Linked DNA regions of Homo sapiens. The protein of the gene in region 1 interacts with the protein of each later gene in a biochemical or structural test. Each region holds a gene or a part of one and is shown on either strand. Other genes may lie near its edges.

What was found. Proteins that work in one complex are often made in the same cells at the same time.
Region 2: the proteins of PAN3 (region 1) and TNRC6B form a complex in vitro, tested with the Homo sapiens proteins (one study listed by BioGRID and IntAct).

The regions. Positions count from the first base shown.
Region 1 is NC_000013.11:28,134,584-28,141,564, reverse strand, and holds the start of PAN3 (PAN2-PAN3 deadenylation complex subunit PAN3), read right to left. Parts: upstream 3,021-6,981; 5' UTR 2,908-3,020; coding exon 2,478-2,907; exon of another isoform or gene 2,391-2,477; intron 1-2,390. UniProt on the Homo sapiens protein: Regulatory subunit of the poly(A)-nuclease (PAN) deadenylation complex, one of two cytoplasmic mRNA deadenylases involved in general and miRNA-mediated mRNA turnover.
Region 2 is NC_000022.11:40,173,536-40,180,946, reverse strand, and holds the start of TNRC6B (trinucleotide repeat-containing gene 6B protein), read right to left. Parts: upstream 3,023-7,411; 5' UTR 2,812-3,022; coding exon 2,807-2,811; intron 1-2,806.

The DNA of each region.
Region 1 (6,981 bases):
ACCCGGGAGGCAGAGGTTGCGGTGAGCCGAGATCACTAGATTGCACTCCAGCCTCGTAAACAAGAGTGAAACTCCGTCTCAAAAAAAAAAAAAAAAAAAAAAGAAAAAAAGAAAAAGAAAATCCTAGAATGATCGTCAGAGCTGTCTGTCAGGAATAAGATTAATAGATAAATAAAACTTTAAAAGTTTTTTTTAAAAAGAGAATCCTAGAAAGATCACCTATGAAGTCTAACACCAGCATTTTAAAAAGTGCCTCTTTCTGGCCAGCACAGTGGCTCACACCTGTAATCCCAGCACTTTGGGAGGCCGAGGCGGGACGATCACCTGAGGTCAGGAGTTCGAGACCCACCTGGCCAACATGGCGAAACCCCGTCTCTACTAAAAATACAAAAATAAGCCGGTCGTGGTGGCGCATGCCTGTAAAACCCAGCTACTTGGGAGGCTGAGGCAGGAGAATTGCTTGAACCTGGGAGGTGGAGGTTGCTGTGAGCCGAGATCGCACCACTGCACTTCAGCCTGGACGACAAGCAAGCCTCCGTCTCAAAAAAAAAAAAAAAAAAAGTGTCTCTTTCTGTCAGTAAGAAAACTATTGTTCAGTGTCATTGGTTACTAATCAAACATTACTACTGAGTCACGACTCACACATCCAGCAAAACTTTAACCTGAAAATGCAAAGTTGATGCTCGAAAGTGATAAAATTCCACCCATAAGTAACCATTTGTTTTACAAAACATCTGAATTTACAAAATTAATTTTCTTAGCATTATCAGCCTTAGCAAATATATCTTCATTAAAGTCAAGCCCATCACAACAAATGAAACACTTCTATAAAAGAAAAAGAAAGAAGAGAGAAAGGAGAAAAGAACAGAACAGAACAACACTTGGCCCAGCATGGTGCCTCACTCCTGTAATCCCAGCACTTTGGGAGGCCCAGGCAGGAAGATCGCTTGAGCCCAGGAGTTCCAGGCCAGCTTGGGCAACATAGGAAGATCCCGTCTCGAAAGAAAAAGCAAGAAAGCAAAACCCCGGGGAAGATATTAAATAATCCTCATAGACCAATTAAATGCTAAAACTTCCTATCAGGTTCATTAACAGTGTTTAAGAAAAAGACAAAATGTTCTCATGTACAAATTGAACTGCCTATCAGATTATTTTAAGATCTAGTTCTCCAGAATTCCCAAGAAAGTAGGACTCCTATTTGGTTTAGAAACGCTCAATATACTAAGAAACAAAACAGGGACATCTGGCACCGGCTCTATTCGTAAAGGCAACATTCTCTAACAGATTACGCTCACATTCAATTGTAAACTCCACTAACAACTAACAAGCTTCAGGTCAATAGATAACAACACACTGAGAGGCTGAGGAGGACAGATCACTTGAGGCCAGCAGTTTGAGACCAGCCTGGCCAACACAACGAGACTACTATCTCAACTAAAACTACAAAAAATTATCTGGCCGTGGTGGCGCGCGCCTGTAGTCCCAGCTACTCCGTAGGCAGAGGCAACAGAATCGCTTGAACTCGGGAGGCGGAGGTTGCAGTGAGCTGAGATCGCGCAACTGCACTCCAGCCTGAGCGACAGGGCGAGACTCTCTCCAAAACAACAACAACAACAACAACAACAACACATGAAAAAGAAATATAAACAGCCTTAAGATGTCCCCACCCAAGTGCTCAGTCGCACATAAACGCAGGCTGCACATGACATGCATTCAAGACACAATGCTGAGTTTGCTTGATACAAAGCTATAGAAGACAGGATCCCAGCTGACACCAGCAAACTTATTCTAGCTTTCAGGGAAACTCAGATGAAATGCGTCTTTGTGAAATCCCTACTCTAAACTCTCGATTAAACCTGAGCACACTTTGAACGCGACAGTCCGCTCCCTCCTAATCCTTAGAAAGCATTTCCTGCCTGCAAAACCTTTCTCCCGCAAGCCTTCTACAAACTTTTTCCGTTCTTTCAACCTACTCCACGAAGCCTTAAGCCCGCCCCTCACCTCCCGCCCCCTACACACACACACACACACACACACACACACACACACAAACACACCCCTCCCCACTAGGGAACCTCAACACTCTGCAGACGCCACTCCACAAGGACACGCAAAACACATGTGCCTGCAAACCCAGCCCCTTTCCACACCCCCCGGAAACGACACCCCCTTTCTCACACTCCGCACGCCACAGCCCATCCCCCTTCCTCCCCGCCCCCCCTTCACATCACCCCAGTCCTCCCACCCACGTTCCCGGGAACCCAACCTCCCCGCGCTCTCCGACTTGCCGAAGGCAGTGGGGAGGGGAAGCAGGAAGAAGGAAGGAGGGCTCAGGCCCGGCCTAGGCCTCTCAGACCGCCTTGGGAGGTGAGGGGGGGAGCCCGCGGGCCGTGCTCAGCTCCCGTCGGCAGCAGGGCCTCATCCGGCCCAGGCCTGCCCTCCGCCGCCGCGGCCCGCCCCGCCCGAAAAACACTCACTTGCCAGCCGCGGTCCATCGAGTCCCCCGCTACTGCCTCCTCCGCCGGCTGCGGCTCCGGTCCCCGGGTCCCCCAGGTCCGGCTTCTTGGGCCCGGGGGGCGGCCCAGCTCCCCCGCCCGCGACGGCTCCCGGCGGAAAGCCGGCCACGGGTGCACCAGCCAGAGCCAGGGGGACGCTGTTGCTATGGAGGCCGAGGCCCGGGGCAGCCCCGGCGGCAGGGTCCTCATGCAGGAACTGACACTCCTCCCCGTAGAAGCAAGTCTTATCCTTAGCGTAGTAGCGGCAGTACTTCAGCTTCACTCCTACCGCCGCCCCGCCGGGGACACCCCCGACCCCCGGCGGGGCCACCACCGCCACCGCCGCCGCCAGCGAGGAGGAGGAAGGGGAGGCGGCGGCCGAGGGGGGCGGGAGGCCGCCGCCACTGTTCATGGCAACGCCGCAGCCTCGTCTTCCGCCGCCGCCCGAGGAGCCGCCGCCGCCACCACCATAGACGGGGGAGGAAAGGAAGACGCTGCCGGTGCCGGATAAAAGCCTGGGCGGGTGGGTCTGTCCCGCTGCGGGAGCCGGAGCCGCCCGGGGAGAAGGGGGAGGGGAGAGGGGAGGGAGGAGGGGGTAGAAGGAGGGAGGGTAGGGGGAGAGTTGGGATTCTCTCACTCACTCTCTCGTTCTCTTTTCTTAAAGGGGCCGCGCGGGACGACGGGGTGAGCGCGCGGGCCCAGACGGGGACTTCGAGGGCGCGGGCAGGGGAAGAGGGAGCGGCAGCGGCAAGCGGGTGGGGAAGGCGGAGGGGCCGGTTTATTTTTAAATTCTGCCTCCACTCGCTCTCTCGCGCTCTGGTTCCTCCGAGTTGTTTATTCCATTTTCCTCTTCCTGAGACGGCCGTCGCCGCTGCGCGTGCGCGCTGAGACGCGAGGGCTTATGGGTAGCGGGAGCGCTAGGGGAAGCCTGGCCGGCGTCGGGCCCCCGGGGGCATCCGCGAGCTATCGGCGGTTGGACCGGCGGCTCTCGGTGGGGTTCCGGACGCGGATCTGGCGCCGAATTCTCACGAGACCTGATACCTTCCTTATTTGTATATTCTCTTACTTAAAAAGCCAGATGTCTTTTTTTTTTTTTTCATTGAAAAGAGAAAATTGACAAGGTAAACGGTCGTTTGGAGGGGCCACCTGGGGACGCGGCCCGAGCCCTGGCTCTACCTGAAGAATATCTTCTATTTGCCACACTTCCTCTCCCCGTTTCCTTTCTTCGCCCCTCTCCTCTTTCCCCTTCCCCTCGAAGGTAATGAGAACTACTGGACCGATTACGCTAACCTCTTGGCCCTTTGTCAAAAAATGGAGCCAAAAAGGTTGATTTAGACAGACCCCCTGCTCAGTGCAGCACCTGTTATTCTCTGTATTTATATTACCAAGGGCCTTCGGTAAATTATGAAAAATAGGATGCCACCTGGGACAACACTGCTTAGACAGCACTGGAAGACCTTTATAAATATACTAGGTTGCTTTTCTCCAATCAGCCTAGCCTTGATTTGAAATTCATTTTTATTTTTTTTGAGACGGTGAAATTCATTTTTAAAAGATAGTTTTAACCTCAGCGATCTCTGATGTTTGCGCTAATACCCTTTTAAAGGCTTTCAGAAATTTTAAAGAATTGCTATGAAAGGAAAAGTAACATTCTAGTTTTTCTCTGTAAAAGAGGTTCACAAACGGCAGATCGCTGTTATGAAAAGGAGGGGTGGAAGTATTTAAGGAATTGTGGCAAACAAAGTCACAGAAGAATGGATATAAGCAAAAGTAGCACACTGAAAAAAATGGGGAAAAGTGGAGTCTAGATCACAAACTGGTAAGCTTGGTGATGTTCTCTAGCCAAATTCGAAGGTAATAACATTGTATTATGGCTTTCTGTTTAAAAGCAGTTTCGCTTATTTGATTATTCAACAAATCTTTATTAACACGCATTACGTGTACCAGAAACTGTGGTACACTTAACTGTGGAGCTGGGGAAGCAAAAGTGAACATGCCGCCTTAAGTGAGTTCAGATGGCTTATCTTCCGGTTGGGGAGGCATCAAGTACACAGGTCCGTTGTAAACCAGTGTCTTAAGTGCTAACCTTATCACATTTGCTATTAGAGGATATTAAACATGTCAGACTTCTTGGAGAAAGTTGATATTTTCATGTTCCAAGTTTGGGAACATCATTGAATTCAGACAGATCTGGATTGAAACAGATTAAAGTGCCTACACTTTAATAGCTGTGTTCCTCTCAGTTAATTGCTTCATTTCTCTGTGCCTTGTCTGTACACCTGGATTAAGAATAGTACCTACTTCATAAAGTATAACTAATAATGTATATAAACTGTCCCATGCCTAATAAGAATTCGGTAGGTTGTAACTATTATTAATAGTATTGGCCAGGCGCAGTGGCTCACGCCTGTAATCCCAGCACTTTGGGAGGCCAAGGCGGGTGGATCACCTGAGATCAGGAGTTCGAGACCAGTCTGGCCAACCTGGTAAAACACCGTCTCTACAAAAATACAAAAAAATTACTGGGCGTGGTGGCGAGCGCCTGTGATCCCAGCTACTGGGGAGGCTGAGACATAAGAATCACTTGAACCTGGGAAGCAGAGGTTGCAGTGAGCCGAGATCTCGTCATTGCACGCCAGCCTGGGCGACAGAGCGAGACTCCATCTCGAAAAAAAAGTAGTATTGCTGCTAGTGGTAGTCAGTGTATAGTCAAAGAGCATTCTAGGCAAACAGCTTTTATTGTTAGAATACAGTGATAGTGGAAAATGGAGCAGAGTCCACAAAAGTCCTTGTAGGGCCATGTTAAAGAATTGAACTTTTGGCCAGGCGCAGTGGCTCACGCCTGTAATCCCAGCACTTTGGGAGGCTGAGGCGAGCAGATCACGAGGTCAGGAGTTCAAGACCAGCCTGGCCAACATGGTGAAACCCCCGTCTCTGCTAAAAATACAAAAATTAGCTGGGTGTGGTAGCAGGCACCTGTAATCTCACCTACTCGGGAGGCTGAGACAGAAGAATTGCTTGAACCCGGGAGGCAGAGGTTGCAGTGAGATCGCACCACTGCACTCTAGCCTGGGCGACAGAGCAAGGCTCCATCTCAAAAAAAAAAAAAAGAATTGAACTTTTTCTTGAGGACAATTGGAAGTTATTACAGGGTTTTTAAAAGTCAACATGGCAGGGCACAGTGGCTCACACCTCTAACCTCACTGCTTTGGAAGGAAGCCAAGGCAAGAGGATCACTTGAGGCCGGGAGTTCAAGACCCTCTTGGGAAAACTAGCAAGACCCTGTCTATACAAAACAATTTAAAAATTAGCCAGGTGTAGAGGCACTTGCCTATAGTCCTAGCTACTGGGGAGGCTGAGGCAGAGGATCATTTGGGCTCAGGAGTTCCAGGATGCAGTGAGCTTTGAAGGCGCCATTTTATGCCAACCTGCACAGCAGTGAGACCCTCTCGGTCAATAAATAAAAAATAAACTTATTTGCCACACATTTCATATCTCCACACTTTTTTAGGAGACAACTACTTATTCCTATAGTAGGGTTGTCTTTTTAAGCAGGGTTCATTGTTGAGTATTCCTTTACTAAAAATAAATATGTAGTCAACTCTAAGTTATTTTCATGTTAATGAAGATTACATCCAAAACTGCAAATAATCCATAAATTATTCATAAAATGTATACTTGACCTCCAACAGCATTTCCCCAGCAACAGAGACTACATTGCTAAAGGGTAATGTTAATTTCTATTAAATGCTAATAATTGAGGCCAAGCGCATTGGCTCACACCTGTAATCCTAGCACTTTGGGAGGCGGAAGTGGGTGGATCACTTGAGGTAAGGAGTTTGAGACCAGCCTGACCAACGTGGTGAAACCCCGTCTCTACCAAAAATACAGAAAATTAGCTAGGCATGGTGGCAGGCACCTGTAATCCCAGCTTCTCGGGAGGCTGAGGCAGGAGAATTGCTTGAACCTGGGAGGCGGAGGTTACAGTGAGCCGAGATTGCGCCATTGCATTCCAGCCTGGGCAACAGAGCGAGACTTCATCTCAAAATTAATAATAATAAAGATTGAGAGGAAAACGTCACATTTTCTGAATGGTTAATTATTATATTAGTGATAGCAGCCTGAGTCTTAAAAATTCTCCCTTAAGGACAAGCATGTGGCTCACACTTATAATCCTAACACTTTAGGAGGTCAAGGCAGGAGAATCACTTGGCTCAGAAGTTCTGAGACCAGCCTAGGCAACATAGGGAAACACTGTCTCTACAAAAAAATTTAGCTGGGCATGGTGGCATTCTGTGGTCACAGCTACTTGGGAGGCTTAGGTGGGAGGATTGCTTGGGCCAGGAGGTCGAGGCTGCAGTGACAGCCTAGGTGACAGCAACCCTGGTGTCACCTGGTGAAAAAAAGGTGACCCTGTCTCAAAAAAAAATAAAAATTATCCCTTAAGATAGAGTGGAAACTGCATGTGGATAAATGAGAGTTGACT
Region 2 (7,411 bases), on another chromosome or scaffold:
TGTGATATTATCACTAGTTGATCCAGCATTAGGAAATATAGATTGGTGGGGGGGGTGGCAGTTAATAGGGATTATATTCACTTTCTCCAATAAGAAACTTCCTCTGCATATGCCATCTCATTTTTAAAAAGTAAAACTACAACGTGCAAGTTCCAGCACCCCTGGATATTGCTCTTCATAACATCGGCCACATCTTTAAAGTTTTTAAAGCTTCAATTCACAGTACTCACAGAAAGAAAACTTCAACAGAAGGCACAAATTAAATACTATCCATCTGCACACTTAATTGATTACTCATTTTCATTTCCTTCTGGATGACCATCGTGTTGGTGAGCCAGAAGGATTGGCTCTGCAGGATCTGAGATCCAAAATGGCAGTCGAGCTATCAACTCACCAGAGCCATAATGCTTCCCATACGTGAAGCCAGGTCTTATTTATCTCACCTTTTAATTATCCAGGGGAAAAGAATATTTATAAAAAACATTTCAAAGAATCAAATGGCATTCATTGTATCATTCTCTGTTCTGCCTAAGACAGCAGGTACCCTGCTCTGGTTCCTCCTCTCTGCAAACTGAATTAACCTGCCATTCATATGTTTACACAGCCACAAAAACAAGATAATGGCAAAACATGGAAAGCCTAGGTTTTATCTCCTCTTCAGTAAGACCAACTTTAGGAAATAGGTGTAAAATGAATCATATAACAAGCAAAGCCCCAAAAAAGTGCTTTCATTTTCAGAAAAACAGCAACAAAAATCAGAGCTGATTTTCCTTTAGGTCTACCACAATGCAACATTCTCTATCACTAAGGTAATTTCTCTATCTTTTCCCTTTAAATTCAAGCCGTAAAAAAATTTAGAGACAACTTTGTTCCAGACTACCTCTTTAATGTAATGTTTCCAATCCTTCTTACACAAAAGCTGAATTTATATCATCAAAAAATTTACAGTGAATCTAAACAGTCACTTCTGTATTTATTACCATTACTAACATAACAACATTAATTTTTTAAAATAATAAAATCCTTGCTTGTTAGAGACAGAGGGCTTTAATTATCTTATGTATTCAAATGGAAAGTCTTTTTGTTAAATTAGCGTGAAAGTCCCTTCATCTACACACAATTGGCCCAAAGAAACAGGCCATTTTCAGCACAAGAGGCCAATCCATTTTAAGAGTGAATAAAGCTTTTGAAAGCACCACACACCCTCTTCCAGACTGTCAAATTTTCAAAATGGTCCAGCATTTTTTCCACTTTATCTTTTTTAACACTTTCAGGCCCAGTAAGCATCTCATAATTAGATTAATTAAAAAGGAAACAACAAAAAACACTGCTCCCTTCTGATCAAAATTATTCCATTTATGCTTAATTAGCTTTAATCCACGTCTACATATTTAATGATGGGGATATGACAATTCAACCCATTTGCATATTTTAAATGCCTTTTCTAAACTATACTTTGTAACAGATTTAGAAGAACAGTCTCTTTCTCATGCCAATATGCCACAGCATAAATCAGGAGGATACAAATTAGGAAAAAAAGAGAAAAGAAAACAAGGCCTCTCAGAGCCAGGGATGTGCTCAGGGGGGTGGAGTAATTTACCCAGGGGTGGGGGCAATTTACCCGCCACATCACAAACTACAATCCTTTCAGCCCACCAGACCGAGAAGCATTACATCACACTCTCACAATGATAGGGGGAGGAGGCTCTGAGAAAGCAAGTTTTCAGCTTTCTTTCCTCCCTGCTCTCAGGCTTCCAGAATCCTGCATTAGGAGTAATGGAATTTAACTTCAGGCACTGCACAGCTTCAGGGGTTACTAACAATCACATAGACTGCTACTTATACATGTGACCCTAAATGACCACTTCGCAGTGGATACATGGCCGAAACAGGCAACCACACACTCACACGATGAATTTATGCTGAAAAACTCAGTTTTGCATCTGTGTAAAATTAAACAAAAATTTTATTTCGTGAGGAATGAAGAAGGCTAATACACAGGGAGAACTGATAAAGAAATAATTTCTAATCGCGGTGAATAGCTGTTCATATCTTTAAAACACCATGTTTACAACATAGTCCTACCCTTTGGTTGAATCCAGGATCAAAATAAAAGCGCATCTGGCTGCACATTTGAGAACACACACAGAGACCCAGTGCAAATGAGCGCGCGCAGAAAGGAGAGGGGTGAGCCACATATTGCTTGGGAGGTTTTCAAGCAGGGGAATCTACAAACCCCAAACCTCCTGGTGTTCACCCGCCCCCAACCTGATGTTTAAAATGTATTAGGTCTTACTTTAGGTTTTACATCTCTCTAGGAAGGAGGGCCCAGTTTAAAAAATAAAAAGATAGAAAAAGGCTTTCCCGTTCTAGGGCTTGCCCTCCCAGATCCTTTGTCGGCCTTAGCAGCCGAAAGAATGCAAACCCATTTATATTTATGCAAATTTTTGCAGCAGATTTAAGGGGGGAGGGGGAGGTCTGTGTTTTTTAAAAACCTCTTTCTAAATAGCAAATTTCCAATTACTCGCAGCTTCATTTATTGCAAGATAGAAACGATGATGAAAATCTGCATATACATTAAAAGTGCAATTAAATCACTTCAAAATCTAAATATTTTACCACGTCTTTTCCATTTCTAAAATGCCGAACCAAAGTACATCACGGGTCTGATTTACACAGATCCACGAAATGTCTGAAGCCAGTCTCCATGCTAGACAAATGTCGATTTGCAACACCACCAGTGAAAACGGTTAGACAAGATCCATATAAATCAATTGGTTAAAAAAAATTGAAAATATTTACCAACCTCATAAAGTGCAGCAGTGCTTAAATCCAGCAAATTGAGGCATACAAGGTAGAAATGGAAATGAAAAAAGGTCCAAAAAATGAATTCTTTTTGTCTATCTGTTTTTTTGTATTTTAAATATTCAGAAACCAGCAGAGACTCTGTCGGCCATTTTGGCTTGAACTAACTCTCTCTCACACACTCTCCCTCTTGCTCTCTCTCTCCCTCTCTGTCTCTAAAGGAAGCAGCTTTTTGTGACCTTCAAATAGAGGCAGATCATGTGACTTCGGGTAGGTTTGTCAATCAGGAAAGGGGAGGGAGCTGGAGCTGAGACTGCCTTAAAGGGGAAGCAGCCCTTTTCCACTCACTTTCATTTGTGAAATGCTGTTATCTCATACTCTCCGCCTACAGACACTGCATGTGAAAGTGGCAACAGCATAAGGGTAACAGATGAACAAAACAGAAAAACCTTTATTGGTTTATAGAAATATGCTCAGTTGCTAACGATTCTTACAGCTCCTGGATCTTCTCCTGGCTCGCTTGCTAGTTATTCTCTAGATGTTTGGGCAAGCACAGGCTGGCAAACTGCTCTGTAAAAGGGGCTGAAACACAGCTCTACCAAACAAGAGGCTTTAGCTTTGAAAGAATGAGGTGAAATACAGGGCACGACTGATCTCTAAGAAACTCCTAAAATGTATAGAAAAAGACTGAAAGAAACGCACAAAAGTATAAACTGAACTGCAATTCAGAAAGGTTAAGTGACTTATCCCAAATCACACAGCTGAACAGCTGCAGAAGAGGGACTGGTTTCCCAATTCTGAACTCTACACTTATTGTTTTGCCTGTATGTGTGTTCAGTACCTCCTCCCCCAAACCCAAATAAAAACTATGCTTCAGCACTGCAAACGGAGTTTCTCTGGGCTAGGGCAGGTCTGAGTCATCTTTAATCCCCTCCCCCACCGCAGGAGGTAGCTCTGCAGCTGAGGGAGCCTAGGCACTAAATTAAAACCTACCTGGTTTCCACCACTCCTAATCCCTTCTCCTTCGCATATACATCTCCACTCCTACCCACTTAAGAAACCCAAGCTCGGTTTGCATCTCCAGCCCCCGCGGCTCACAGGCCGTGTAACTTCACTGCTAACAGCAAGTAAGTAAGTCCCTTACCCATCCTCCCACCCTGCCTGGCCTCCGTTTTCTCATTGGTAGCCGGCGGAGATTGGGCTTCCCTAGATGGTATCTTTGGTTTCTTTCACCTCTGAAACTCTGCACTTGGCTTCTTTGAGTAGTTCTGTTCATCTTTTCCTGGCCATCTCAAAAGTTCGCCTCCACCCTGGGAAGGCTTCTTGACCCTCGCAGTCCAGACCAGGCCCTCCTGTTAACACTCCCATAATATCCTTTACTACTTCTTCAGAGCAATGGTCATAATTGCAATTTATGAAAGAATGTGCTTAACATTAGTCTTCCCCAGGAGACTGTAAACTGTATAAGGAAAAACACCACGTCTTCACTGCTCTGTGAGGCTCCACACCAAACACCACATAGGAGGTAAATAAATGAATAAATCAATGACTTGGACCCTATTCAGAAGGGCTGGGCTGAGTAGGAGGAAATCTGCCACCTGAATATAAAAAATGTAGGGGAATGAGGGTCACATAGTTCCCAGAAACTCGCATTCATCTATGTTTTAAGGACGGCTTCAGGAAAGAAAGTAACTAAAATGGTAAAAAGCGCATGAGGCCGGGTGCGGTGGCTCATACCTGTAATCCCAGCACTTTGGGAGGCCGAGGCAGGCAGATCACCTGAGGTCGGGAGTTCGAGACCAGCCTGACCAGCATGGAGAAACCCCGTCTCTACTAAAAATACAAAATTAGCCAGCGTGGTGGCACATGCCTGTAATCCCAGCTACTAGGGAGGCTGAGCTTAGCAGGAGAATCGCTTGAACCCGGGAGGCGGAGGTTGTGGTGAGCCGAGATCGCGCCATTGCACTCCAGACTGGGCAGCAAGAGTGAAACTCCATCTCAAAAAAAAAAAAAAAAAAAGTGCATGAGAATGCCCTGTGACTATCGACTCCACCTATCTCTATAAGCCAGAAAAGGGAGGATTCCCTAGTGTGCTTCTCCCATAAACTAGGCTGCCATGCCAGCCAGCAGACAACTGATGGATTCTAGAAACCCGGCTTTCCTTGAAAAGGAACCTACGAATGCTTGTAAAATCCCACAACACTTGTTGTCATCCTGGCTTCTGGGTCTTTATACAGTCTCCCGCCTTTGCTCTTTCCACTCAGATATGACGACAGGAAAGGAGCTGTTTCATGGCAGGCAAAGGCCAATGCCTGGACAATCTGGTAGCCTGAATAGCTGTGGCTTAACAAGCTTCCACTGTCTTTGCCTAGCACTGAGTGAAATAGCCAGGCCCTGCACTGACAATTGAGATGCAGGAAAAAGCAGGAAACTACTAGAATGGAAATTCTGATTATTTAGTCTATTTTTATCCTTCCAATACCTTCCAGATGAGTTACTGAAAGCCTACTTGCTTGTAGCTGGCTCGATTTGTAAAAATGTGTGGAGACTGAACATCCACCTTGTTTTAATTTGTGATGGACATGCTTTCTTTATGAAACTGAACTTTGCTAAGTCTCCATTCCCCAGTGTAGAATATTATTGTATACAAATATTTATATGTGTTGCCTTGTAAGTGTTAAATAGCAAACTGCATGAAAAGTTTGGAAACAGAACAAACATATTTTAAATAAAATATTGGTTCTAATTTCAAATAATATGCTGAAAACATATATATATATATTTTGAGACAGAGTCTTGCTCTGTCACCCAGGCTGGAGTGCAGTGGCATGGTATCGGCTCACAGGAACCTCCACCTCCTGGGTTCAAGCGATTCTCCTGTCTCAGCCTCCTGAGTAGCTGGGATTACAGACACATGCCACCATGCCCAGATAATTTTTGTATTTTTAATAGAGACAGGGTTTCACCATGTTGGCCAGGCTGGTCTCGAACTCCTGACCTCGTGATCTGCCCACGTCAGCCTCCCAAAGTGCTGAGATTACAGGCATGAGGCACTGCGCCCGGCCACTGAATATTTTTTCCTTAACCTCCACATCATCTTTTCTATGCAATACCTCTAAATTTAATACAATTAGTCTAATCGTTTATCTAAAACAAACAAGTGCAATAAATACATTATTTCTCCCTTGTGTTTCCAGACATAATAGATTCTGTGATAGATTTATTATACTTTTTTCATATTAACAATTAGACAATATTTTAAAATTATATTATTGTAAGGTAAGGACACAAAGAAATAAATTTTTTTTTTTTTTTTTGAGATGGAGTCTCGCTTTGTCGCCCAGGCTAGAGTGCAGTGGTGCTATCTCGGCTTACTGCAAGCTCCGCCTCCCGGGTTCACGCCATTCTCCTGCCTCAGCCTCCCGAATAGCTGGGACTATAGGTGCCTGCCACCACGCTCGGCTAATTTTTTTGTATTTGTAGTAGAGACGGGGTTTCACTAAATCACCTCGTGATCACCTCGTGATCTGCCGGCCTCAGCCATAAAAATTATTTTCTAAAACTAAAAACAAGAACATTCAAATGACTGTTATCTTTCAAAGCTGGCACCTTTGGAGGTTACATACCATTCCTCAAAATATTTTTATCAGAAAACATGATTGGCCAGGCATGGTGGCTTATACCTGTAATCCCAGCACTTTGGGACGCCGAGGTGGGTGGATCACTTGAGGCCAGGAGTTCGAGACCAGCTTGGCCAACATGGCAAAATCCCGTTTCTACTAAAAATAACAAAAATTAGCTGGGCATGGTGGCACACGCCTGTAGTCCCAACTACTCAGCAGGCTGAGGCTCAAGAATCACTTGAAGCCAGAAGGTGGAGGCTGCAGGTTGCAGTGAGCTGCAGTGAGCAAGGTCGTGCCACTACCCTCCAGCTGGGGCAATAGAGCAAAACTCTGTCTCTAAAAAAAAAAAGAAAAAGAAAAAGAAGAAAACAAGATTGAAAAATAACTGAACTGAGTATTTAACTCAAAAATCTAGAAAAAGGCTGGGCGTGGTGGCTCACGCCTGTAATCACAGCACTCTGGGAGACTGAGCCAGGCAGATCACCTGAGGTCAGGAGTTCAAGACCAGCCTGGCCAACATGGTGAAAACCCAACTCAAAATACAAAATTTAGCTGGGCATGGTGGTACCTGCTGGTAATCCCAGCTACTTGGGAGGCTAAGGCAGGACAATTACTTGAACCTGGGAGATGGTGGTTGCAGTGAGCTAAGATCATGCCACTGCACCCCAGCCTGGACAACAGAATGAGATTCTGTCTCAAAAAAAAAAAAAAAAAAAAAAAAAAAATATATATATATATATATATGTTCAAAAATCTAGAAAAAGAGTTAATAAACCCCAAAAATGAATAAATATAAAAGCAAGGCTGGCCATGGTGTTGACTCATGCCTGTAATCCCAGCACTTTGGGAGGCCAAAGTTAGAGGTTTACTTGAGCCCAAGAGTTTGAGACTGGGCAACAAACATAGTGAGATCTCGCCTCTACAAAAAAATAAAAAAAGTCAGCCAGGCTTGGTGGGGTATGCCTGTGGTCCTAGCTACTCCG